Linked DNA regions of Homo sapiens: region 2 is linked to region 1. A link means that fine-mapping ties the variant in region 1 to the expression of a gene that starts in the linked region. Tissue or cell type: whole blood. Region 1 holds a variant in brackets; the other region holds the start of a gene. All regions are shown on one strand. Distances are between the middles of the regions.

The links. PIP is the estimated chance that this variant, and not a neighbour inherited with it, causes the effect.
Region 2: it holds the start of NADK2, and the variant in region 1 is fine-mapped to the expression of NADK2 in whole blood (INTERVAL, PIP above 0.99).

Annotation. Positions count from the first base shown.
Region 1 is chr5:36,292,538-36,298,873 of GRCh38, reverse strand. The region is part of intron 1 of RANBP3L (RAN binding protein 3 like); the gene reads left to right. All of the region lies in intron 1 of LOC124900962 (a long non-coding RNA gene), which reads right to left. Among named protein-coding and RNA genes, the nearest start is that of RANBP3L, 6.2 kb to the left of the region's middle. The variant C/AC (reference allele first, on the strand shown) is at 3,201.
Region 2 is chr5:36,238,830-36,244,749 of GRCh38, reverse strand. NADK2 (NAD kinase 2, mitochondrial) reads left to right here and starts at 2,825. Exons shown (of 12, transcript NM_001085411.3): 1 at 2,825-3,251. The coding sequence starts at 2,952. LOC124900962 (a long non-coding RNA gene) reads right to left here and starts at 2,848. Exons shown (of 3, transcript XR_007058733.1): 1 at 2,722-2,848. RefSeq lists enhancers at 2,301-2,500, 3,851-3,920 and a silencer at 2,741-3,760.

The sequences.
Region 1 (6,336 bases):
ATAATCACTATGATGACATACTTCCCAAAATACCCACAAGACTGGTCTTCTTTCTCAGACTTAGCTTTTTGCCTAGAATGTTTTGAAAGCAAGCATATTCTTCCACACCCAAGTCTCAAAATATCTGCCCACATAAGCCACAATCCATAAAGTTGTGAAGCATGCTAATGCAGTCCAGACTGGCCATTGATTGCTGCAAGAAATATCATCTAGTGATTTGAGCTGGGTAGTATTTGCTGTGTTGCTAAATTGCATTCCAGTTACTGTCCTGGAGTTTTAAAGTATTCATTCAGAGCAGTGGCCCTGCTTTTTCCTCCAAGCTATTTTTGCACCTTGCTATTATGTGAAGTTCAGCAAAGGTCCCAGGAAGCAAAGCCATTTGTTTTAGAGAGTGAGGTCTGGCTTTATTCATGGAATCATCCTGGGTTCACGGCTTTGGCCTTTCCCCAGCCAGCCTAAAGTTCTGCCTCTATTATTTAGCATACAGACTATGATTAATTGACATTCGACACTTCTGTAGGCGTGACTAGCTTCAACACATACATATTTTCTTTTCCTTTTTTTTTTTTTTTTTAAGATGGAGTCTCACTCTGTCACCCAGGCTGGAGTGCAGTGGCATGATCTCGGCTCACTGCAACCTCTGCCTCCCGGGTTCAAGTGATTCTTCTGCCTCCGTCTCCTGAGTAGCTCGGACTACAGGCACACTCCACCATGCCTGGCTAATTTTTTTATTTTTAGTAGAGACGGGGGTTTCACCATATTGGTGAGGCTGGTCTCGAACTCCTGACCTCATGATCTTCCCACCTCGGCCTCCCAAAGTGCTGGGATTACAAGCATAAGCCACCGCACTGACCTCAACACATATATATTTTCTAACCCCCCATGCCATATGCTAAAATGCTTCGTGTCCTTCCACCTAGTCACTCACAGAAGTGTAATTTTGAAGTGATTACATAGATAAAAATCACTTATTCTTCAGCAGTTATCTGGGCAACAACAAGGTGCAAAGTGTTGTGCTAGATGCTGAGTATGCAAATTGAACTAAGACAACTAAGCCATGGTTTTCTGTCCACGTGGAGTTTACTATGACAACAAATGCTCTATCAGTCCAGAACACAAGTCCAGGAGGCTCATCTCCCAACTTGTTGCTATCTTCTAGCTTCTCCTGTGATATTTTTAATCCATTTATCTCTAATATTGATTCTATGAACACATTTGTAAACGTTAATTTACATGTCTATACAGCCTCAGCAAAGCTCATTACACATTACATGTACTAGGCAGACAACCTTCCTTATGTATTATGGTGCTTTAAAATTTACAAATGGTCTCATATACATTATTTCATTAATTTTCACAACAACCAAATGAAATAGTGTAGTCAAGCTTCTTCAGGGAAACAGAACCAATAGGATGTGTGTGTGTGCGTGTGTGTGTGTGTGTGTGTATACAGGTGACTCCTGAACAACACAAATTTGAACTGTTCAGATCCACTTATATGTGGATTTTCTTCCTTTGCCACCCTTGAGACAGCAAGATCAACCCTTCCTCTTCCTCCCCCTCCTCAGCCTACTCAAAATGAAGACAATGATGAAGACCTTAATGACAATCCACTTCCACTTAATAAACAGTAAATATATTTCTCTTCATTATGGTTTTCTTAATAACATTTTTCTCTAGCTTATTTTATCATAAGAATACAGTATATAACACATATAATATATAAAATATGTATTAATCGACTGTCTTATGTTATTGATAAGGATTCTGGTCACCTCTAGGCTATTAATAATTAAGTTTTGGGAGCAGCAAAAGTTATATGCAAAATTTTAACGAGAGAGAATAGAGAGAGAGAAGAGAGAGGGTGAGAGAGAGGGGGATTTATTTTAAGAAATTCACTCCCACAATTATGAAGGCTGGCAAGTCCAAACTGCAGTGTAGACTGACAGGCTGCAGACCCAAGTGAAGAGCTAATTCTGCAGTTGAGTCCATTCTTGGTTGCTCTGGGGTAGTCAGTCTTTTGTTCTATTCAGGCCTTTGACTGATTAGATGAGACTCACTCACTAATGAAGGGCAATCTGCTTGAGTCAAAGTCTACTAGTTTAAGTGTAAACCTCATTCAAAAACATCCTCACCGAAACATTCAGAATGTTGACAAAATATCTGGGTATCATGGAACAGCCAAGCTGACACATAAAACTAATAATCACGAGCAGGTATTGTTATCCTTATTTATAAAGATGTGGAAACCGTGAATCTTCAAGGTCAAGATGACTCTTCCAAGGTTACACAGTTATTAAGAGCTGCTTTCAATGTACTTTCTGCCACATACAGCTGTCTCGTAAAATCTATGATTTCTAGTATTACAATGTTTAATTTTTTTAAATTGATCTATACTAGAGAAACTTCTCCATGGATAACCAAGACATGTTGGAATTCCTCATGATTTTCTTTTTGTCTTCTGACACTTATTCTCTGAGTGTCGTACAATTCAATTCAATTCTGACACTACCCAGAATTAGTGAAGACCCACAAATGAAGGACTTAGTCCCATAAGACTGCCCCGTTTCAGATTCCAACAACAAATTTCAGGTGTCCCCAAGCAATCTGCACTTCTGCCAGGACAATTACAAATTAAAGACGTCCCACAACCCCTCAGATTTGATAATTCACTAGAACAACTCACAGAATTGAGGAAAGCTCTGTACTTTCAATTTCCATTTCATTATAAGGTATACAAATGGTCAGCCAGATGAAGAGGTACATGGGAGGAGGACTGGAAGGGTCATGAGCACAGGAGCCTCTGCTTCCACAGAGTCAGGGTGTGCCGCCCTCTTAGTATCAGGAAGCTCCCCTGAGCATGGTGTCCAGGGTTTTTAATGAGGTTTCATTATGTAGGCATGATTGATTAAATAATTGGCCATATGACTGAACTTAATCTCCAGTTCTTCTCTCCTCCTAGGAAGTTAGGGGAATGGGGTGGGTTTGAAATTTCCAATCTCTAATCACATGTTTGGGCTTTTTGATGTGACAGCCCCTTCCTTGGAACTATGTAAGGATCCCTTAGATAGTTCCATAATAAGCCTTCCTAATAGAGTCCACTAGGAAACAATAAATAAATAAGTTTAATGGCTGAAACTTCATTTTCCCACTTCACAAATATTAGGATGGCTACTATTTGAAAAAAAAAAAAAAAAAAA[C/AC]AGGATATAACAAATGTTGGTGAGAATGTGGAGAAATTGGAACCTCGTGCACTGTTGCAGGAGATAAAATGGTGGAGCTGCTGTGAAAAGTACTATGGCAATGTATTAGTCTGTTCTCATGCTGCTATAAAGAACTCCCTGAGGCTGGGTAATTTATAAAGGAAAGAGGTTTAATTGACACACAGTTCCACAGGGCTGGGGAGGCCTTAGGAAACTTATGATCATGGCAGAAGTGGGGAAGCAAACGTATCCTTCTTCACATGGTGGCAGGAAGGAGAAGTGACGAGCAAAGACGGAAAAGCCCCTTATAAAACCATCAGATCTCATGAGAACTCACTATCATGAGAACAGCATGGGGGTAACAGCCCCCATGATTCAGTTACCTCCCACTGGGTCCCTCCCATGACATGTGGGGATTATGGGAACTACAATTCAAGATGAGATATGGGTGGGGACTCAGCAAAACCATATCACGCAGTTCCTCAAAAAATTAACAAATAGAATTACTATGTTACCCTGCAATTTTACTTCTGGATAAAATCCTAAGAGAAGTAAAAGCAGGGATTCAAACAGATACTTGTGCACCTATGCTCATGGTAGTATTATTCACAATAGCCAAAAGATGGAAACAAACAAATCTCCACTGACAAACGAATGGATCAACAAAATATGGTGTGTATATATATGTGTGTGTATATATATGTATACATACATATATAATATGTAGTGTACATATGTATATATGCATATATTATATATGTATATATACACACATATATGTATATATAGTGTATATATACACTATATATGTATGAGTATATATATGTTTATATGTCATATATATGTATATATAAACATACATACATATATACACTATATATATACACTATACATACACACTATATATATACACACACTATACATATATATATATATAAAACCAAATAATTTTCAGCCTTAAAAATGAAGGAAATTCTGACACATGCTAAAACATGGATGAACCTGAGGACATTAAGTTAAATGAAATGAAGGCAGAAATAAAAATGTTCTTTGAAACCAACGAGAACAAAGGCACAACATACAAGAATCTCTGGGACTCATTCAAAGCAGTGTGTAGAGAGAAATTTATAGCACTAAATGCCCACAAGAGAAAGCAGGAAAGATCCAAAATTGATACCCTAACATCATAATTAAAAGAACTAGAAAAGCAAGAGCAAACACATTCAAAAGCTAGCAGAGGGCAAGAAATAACTAAAATCAGAGCAGAACTGAAGGAAATAGAGACACAAAAAACCCTTCAAAAAATTAATGAATCCAGGAGCTGGTTTTTTGAAAGGATCAACAAAATTGATACACCGCTAGCAAGACTAATAAAGAAAAAAAGAGAGAAGAATCAAATAGACACAATAAAAAATGATAAAGGGGATATCACCACCGATCCCACAGAAATACAAACCACCATCAGAGAATACTACAAACACCTCTACGCAAATAAACTAGAAAATCTAGAAGAAATGGATAAATTCCTCGATACATACACTCTCCCAAGACTAAACCAGGAAGAAGTTGAATCTCTGAATAGACCAATAACAGGATCTGAAATTGTGGCAATAATCAATAGCTTACCAACCAAAAAGAGTCCAGGAAGAGATGGATTTACAGCCGAATTCTATCAGAGGTACAAGGAGGAACTGGTACCATTCCTTCTGAAACTATTCCAATCAATAGAAAAAGAGGGAATCCTCCATAACTCATTCTATGAGGCCAGCATCATCCTGATACCAAAGCCGGGCAGAGACACAACCAAAAAAGAGAATTTTAGACCAATATCCTCGATGAACATTGATGCAAAAATCCTCAATAAAATACTGGCAAACCGAATCCAGCAGCATATCAAAAAGCTTATCCACCATGATCAAGTGGGCTTCATCCCTGGGATGCAAGGCTGGTTCAATATATGCAAATCAATAAATGTAATCCAGCATATAAACAGAACCAACGACAAAAACCACATGATTATCTCAATGGATGCAGAAAAGGCCTTTGACAAAATTCAACAACCTTCATGCTAAAAACTCTCAATAAATTAGGTATTGATGGGACGTATTTCAAAATAACAAGAGCTATCTATGACAAACCCACAGCCAATATCATACTGAATGGGCAAAAACTGGAAGCATTCCCTTTGAAGACTGGCACAAGACAGGGATGACCTCTCTCACCACTCCTATTCAACATAGTGTTGGAAGTTCTGACCAGGGCAATTAGGCAGGAGAAGGAAATAAAGGGTATTCAATTAGGAAAAGAGGAAGTCAAATTGTCCCTGTTTGCAGATGACATGATTGTTTATCTAGAAAACCCCATTGTCTCAGCCCAAAATCTCCTTAAGCTGATAAGCAACTTCAGCAAAGTCTCAGGATACAAAATCAATGTACAAAAATCACAAGCATTCTTATACACCAACAACAGACAAACAGAGAGCCAAATCATGAGTGAACTCCCATTCACAATTGCTTCAAAGAGAATAAAATACCTAGGAATCCAACTTACAAGGGATGTGAAGGACCTCTTCAAGGAGAACTACAAACCACTGCTCAAGGAAATAAAAGAGGATACAAACAAATGGAAGAACATTCCATGCTCATGGGTAGGAAGAATCAATATCATGAAAATGGCCATACTGCCCAAGGAAATTTACAGATTCAATGCCATCCCCATCAAGCTACCAACGACTTTCTTCACAGAATTGGAAAAAACTACTTTAAAGTTCATATGGAACCAAAAAAGAGCCCGCATCGCCAAGTCAATCCTAAGCCAAAGGAATGAAGCTGCAGGCATCACGCTACCTGACTTCAAACTATCCTACAAGGCTACAGTAACCAAAACAGCATGGTACTGGTACCAAAACAGAGATATAGATCAATGGAACAGAACAGAGCCCTCAGAAATAACACTGCATATCTACAACTATCTGATCTTTGACAAACCTGAGAAAAACAAGCAATGGGGAAAGGATTCCCTATTTAATAAATGGTGCTGGGAAAACTGGCTAGCCATATGTAGAAAGCTGAAACTGGGTCCCTTCCTTACACCTTATACAAAAATCAATTCAAGATGGATTAAAGACTTAAATGTT
Region 2 (5,920 bases), 54 kb after region 1:
TCATTACTTAAGGCTTAGCTCTTCACATTCCCAAAAAGCCTTCTCTAACTCTTGTTAGGTTGACTTGAGACTTGCTCCTCCAAATTTCTCAGCATTCTGTGTATAACTCTATCACTGCATAGACTTTAGGCTCCTCAAGGGCATGGAAGCTTTTTATCATTTCATCTGTAGCACCTAGCAGGATGCCTGGCCTACAGTGACACTCAAATTTAATTTAATCTCCACGAATGTGTGTTACATGTGTAAGATTTAAGAGACATTATCTAAAAGGAAACTAGATAAGGATTGGAAATTCAAGAGAAAGATCTGGGCTAAAGATGCCAGTAATAGCTGAGGTCATGAAAGGGGCTAATATTTGCCAAGTGTCTACTGTGTAATGGGCACAGTGCTAAGCATCTGTGCATATATTCACAATTTTACAAGGTAGCAATTATATTTTATAAATGCAGAAGTAGTCTCAGGAAGGTTAAACAACCAGTTCAAGTTTCACAAAGCTAATAAACAATAAAACTGAGATTTGAACCAAGATCCTTCCATTACACAACACTGAATGAACTCAGGAGCGTGTGTGTGTGACAGAGAGAGAGAGAGAGAAGGAAAAAAGACGGAGAAGAAGAGACAAGGAGACGAGGACAGAAGACATCTTGGAGATGGGTTTAGGAAGAAGTCAAAAAGGGACATAGAGATGGGAGAAACACTGTTAGGGACTGGTATGTTGGGAGACAGTAAAAGATTTCAAGAAGAAATGATAACCATTTCAAATTCTTTGGAAAGATCAATCAATTAAAGAACTGAAAAAAGTCTTTTGAGTTCCAACAAGATCTTTTGGTCACCTTGGAAACAGCAGTAATTAGCAAAGTAGTGGGGAGAAGCTAGTGTACAACAGGTTGAGGAATGACTAGGAGGCAGGGATGTGGCAATGATGAACAGACTACTCTTTCGAGAATCAGCTGTAAAGGTAAGGCAGGCAATATGTAAAAACAAAGGCTTAGAGGTTGTTTTGTTTTTTTAGAAAAATTTTAAAGATGTCATAGACATGAGCATATTTAAATACTGAAGAGGCAAACTCATTTGGGAGGGAAAATTCAAGATACCTGTGAGAGGATGCCTTCAGAAACACTATTTTTGAGGAGGTGGAAGATGAGACGCAAAATAACTATGGACAAAGGGCTATTCCAACTGAGATGTCAATGTATATGTTTGCAGCTGAAATGAGAGTCAAAAATCTGGGTTTTTATCTGTGAAATGGGAAGAAATGAGGTCCGAGATTTCAAATATGAGCAACAAAACTCAGACTTTGATCCCAAACAGTTTCTCCCTACGCATTTTTTTTTCTCTATCGAATGGATCAATTAACATTCCCCTGTTCACCCTGGCCTCAAACCTAAGCGTCATCTGTGATTTCTCCCTTTTTTTTTTCCTTCCTAATGCTAATGAAGTTTAAAATAGTAAGACTACAAAGGAGTCTGAGGATAGTTATAGATGTTACCTCTAGAAGCTCAGGTTATTAAGGTTGTTACACTACACGTCACTATTAGCAGCTGCTGTGAGGGAAAGTTCTTGGTGAGAACGGGTCAGTGGTAGAACTTTACCAAGTAAACACCTATCGGGCTTCATTGTGTATGCTCCCAGTCCAATACACTACCTGGCACACAGCAGGCACACCGCGGGAACCCACGAATGAACGCTGGTGCTGGTGGGCCCGTGAGGAGAGTCATAGATTCACTGAATCGATTTGGACTTGGTAGAACCTTGGGGTCACCCTAACCCCCTTTTTACAGATGAGGAATCTGAGGCCCAGAAAGATGAGGTAACCTGCCCAAAGTCCAGAAGCGACGTAGCGCCAGGACTACAAAGGAGCAAACACAGTGCCAGGGGAAGGGGATCTAAGGAGCTGCGGAATTGAACAGCAGGATGTGCACTGCCATGTGGTTCTCCCCTTACAATGGGACGTTTCCTTCTGTTCTCGTCACACCCCAGCCCAGGTCCTGATCACTCCACGGGTCATTATCCCAACAGCATCCCTTCCTCCTCTTCTTGCCTCCCAAGCTACCCAAGATTCCAAAGCCAGATCAATAGTCATCAAACATTGCTTTAACTCACTCCTTTCCAGTTAAAAGCTTTCAAAGAACTAATTCATTTGGACTTTGTCCTATAGGTAGGGCTCTTCGGGGGGGCAGGGGGCAGCGGGGCGGGCACTGGGTCCCACGCCGAGAGGATTTCGTGCCAAGCCACGCACACGGTGCAGCAGGAGCCGGGTCCGCCTCCTCAGCCCCCAGCCCGGCCCCAGACACACCAGCTATCACACCGACCCTGGTCAAATAAACCAATGGGCACGTGGTCGGCCTGCAGAACAGAACCCAAGCGAGCATATGCCAGGAACCTGCCTTCCCGCCAGCCGCTCAAAACCCCACCCGCTGGCCCCGCGCCGCCTCAGACCGGATCCAGCTGGATTCCTCAGGGCGACGCAATCGCCTAACAGAATTCTACCTCTTTCTCAGGCCGCAGCCAATGGCGCGGCCCCTCGGATCCGGAGCCGCCGCGGGCTCTGATTGGCCGATAGAGTTAGCCTGGGGGCGGGAGAAGAGCGACCTCGGGGAAGCGTGTGGTGCGGGGAGGTCGCCCCCGGGCGGCGAAGCAGCCATTATGCAGGCGTGAGTGAAACGAATAAACAAACAAACAAAACCCACTAGCTGGGGCCTCCATTTCTTCCCCGCCCACCTTTCTCCCGCGTGGGGTCTCCCGTTTCCCAATCGCCACGCTTTCCCCGCCTTCGTCAACGCCTGGGTACGTCCCCCTAGCCGCGTGGGCCACGCACGTCCTGGCACTTAACCTCTGCCCGTCCGGCGCGAAGTTAGAGGCCCGGGCGGCGCGGACGGCGCGCACTCCCGGCGGTAGGGAGCTGAGGCAAGGGGCCCGAGCCCAAGCCCGCGGCCGCGGCCCGGCCCACGATGACTTGCTACCGAGGCTTCTTGCTGGGCAGCTGTTGTCGCGTGGCGGGCGGCCGGGCGGCGGCGCTGCGGGGACCGGGTGCGGGAGGCCCCGCCGCGCGGCCCCGGCTGGGCGGTGACGGTGGCGGCCGGCGGCACCTGGGGCAGGGGCAGCCGCGCGAGCTGGCGGGCTGTGGCAGCCGCGCGGACGGCGGCTTCCGCCCCTCCCGGGTGGTGGTGGTGGCCAAAACCACCCGGTACGAGTTCGAGCAGCAGCGGTACCGTTACGCGGAGCTCTCGGAGGAGGACCTGAAGCAGCTGGTGGGTCCTGGCTCGGCCCCGCTTCGCTCCCGGGCTCGGCCGGGGCTCTGGTGGCGGCTGCGCCCCCTCGGGGGGACCTCTCGGGACGACTCTTCCCAGGGCACCGCAGATGCCGGTCCTGCCTCTCTCGCGGCCCCCAGGTCCTCTGGCTTCTCCCTGGGCCTCCTTTGCCTTTGGGCGTGTGTGCGAGGGAGAGGCAGGGCCGGGGAGAGGGGGAGAGAGAGGGACAGTGGTTCATGCAGGGACTTAGGAGGCAGGGGCGCCGCGGGGAGGGCGAAGAGGGGCTGCCGAGTGGCCTCAGAGTGAGGGGTTTGAGGATTCGTTGGTGCCCTCGCCGCCCCCGCCCTCGTTCCCTGGTTGGGACCCACTCCAAGAAAGTGAGCCAGTGGCCTGAGGTCTGGACGCCCTGCGAACAGCTCCCCTGGCCGCCGCGAGAAAGGGGGCCCAGGGCGCCGCTGAGGGCTGCCGGGGGAAAAGGGCCGAAACAACCGCGGACACACCCCCTTTTACTCTGCAGGACTGCGAGGCCTAGGGCACTCCGGAAAGTCCTTCAGCGTGAGCCTTTTCCTTGCTGGAACGTGGTCGTTGGACACTACGAGCTTGTTTTAAAAGCACAGGTCTTTGGTGCTAAGAAGGAAAAGGGAGAAAATTTGACTTGTATATGTACGTTATTAAGGAGAAATGTCAGGACAAGGGGCTGGTATACTGGGTAGTGTGTGAAATAAAAAAGCCTGCGACTCTTGTGCAGCAGTATCTCCACAATATACCATATTTGATATGTTTATTAATATATCTGCAAAGATACAAATCCAAGGGAAAAACCAGAGTTTGAATCTTCCTGTTGTCATCCCCCCCCACCAACTTTAAAAACAGTTTCTGATCCCATACCACCATCCACCAACTTTAGGAAAAGGAGAGTGCCCGGTGCTACCATGAGCAGTATGTCCAGAAAAATATATTGGAAATCTCTTAATTGTTGGCACTGTGCACCAAAAGGTTTTGGAATTAATTGCACATAACTGATTTAGTTTAATTCTGTGCAAGACTAGACAACCTGTTGGAAACTTCTGGTATCGTGTGATCTTAGCGAAGTTATTTTGTAGAGGCATCAAAATGAAATTGTAAATCATCTTTGCTTAAGTGCTGAATCTGTTGTCAACATTAAACATCCTGCTTCTTTGTTGGGTTTACTGAAGAGGGCTCCTGCATTCACCTGATGGGAGTCTAGATGTGTAGATTTGTTTTCTTTTTCCTAAGTGTTTGAAAATGACTGTTTATAGAATACACTTGCATCATTTAAAGAATAAAGGGTTTGAACAGGAGGTTAGAGTAGTTGAGTTTGTATTAGGGAGTGAAACTAGAGGTGAGATAGGGACTAGTAATGTTCTAAGAAAGCACAGTGTTACTATTTGGGGAAAGTGGTGTGCCCTTTGGGTTGTACTAATTTTGCAAAGTCTAGCTTGTAGGATTTGTCAAATGCCATGTATGCATAAATATGTGCATACAGTTTTATCGAAGCTTCCCACAACAATTTAAAATAGCTCACTTGGCATGTTCAGAGTGTGGGATTAAGAGTGAAGAGCTCAGTTCTAGGCCCTGGTTCTGTGTGGTTAACTTCCTATGTGTGTTCTTCTCTGGGCCTCATAGGTGGAAATGATACTTTTTGTATAGTAGTGTCAGTTTTCAAAGTGCTTCACCTAATTCAGTATGTGAATTGCAGAGGTAGTACCAGATAGCCTCCAAGGCCCTTTACAGTACTGGCATTTTGAAACTGTGGATAACGTTTTCAAGGCCTCAAGAAAATGGGTGGCATCTCAGTTAGGATTAACTCTTGGACCTCTGAACTAGATTACCACTTAATAAAAAAACTTTTAAAATGTAGGGAAAATCAATAAGTCTTAAAAAGTCAAACTACCTAAGTGTACCCGTTCTGAGTGGAGAAATCTCTAATAGGTAAATATTTGTCTATTGCTAGGTAATGCTGTTTGGGATAAGCCAGCTTTGAAGTAAAACTCGTGGGCTGTAGAATACACAGTTTTGTAATTGCCAGGCAGTGGAATAGTTTTTGTTGGTGGTGTTGTCATTACAGTTTTATTGGATAAGTTCCTTACTGATTTGAATTTGTGTTATAGTTTATATAAAGGCCCATACTCAGAATGCAATAGCATTAGTTGTAGACCAGATGAGAGATTATTAACAGGCCAAAGAATACTGGGCTGTGTGAAGCTGTCCTAAAATGGGATTCTGTAATAGGAGTGATAAGATGATAAGTATTATTTGTTATATTGCTGGGGTAGAAAATACTAAGTTATGTGAATCATGTGAATTGGATGGATATAAAAGAAAGTGGCCAAGTGCTTGAGTCTCACCATGGCTGCTGTGTCTATAGTGTCATGGTAACTTGGTTTTTTGTCAAAGCATTCTCTTTTGTTGTCGTGGTGGTGGTTTTTTGATGTAAAACAGGTCTGTTTTAGGCTATTTGTTAAAATGCAAATGGAAGATGAAGGATAGAGTGCCAGTATAATTTTATACCCTGAAGGCTGATGATTTTCTAACTTTGTAGAAATGTAAACAATTACAGGAAATATTTTTTAGTTGATAAGGCATGCACAGAATAGGTTTACAACCTTCAAGCTAGTCAAAGTTTTGACTTTTATTTACCGTTTCAT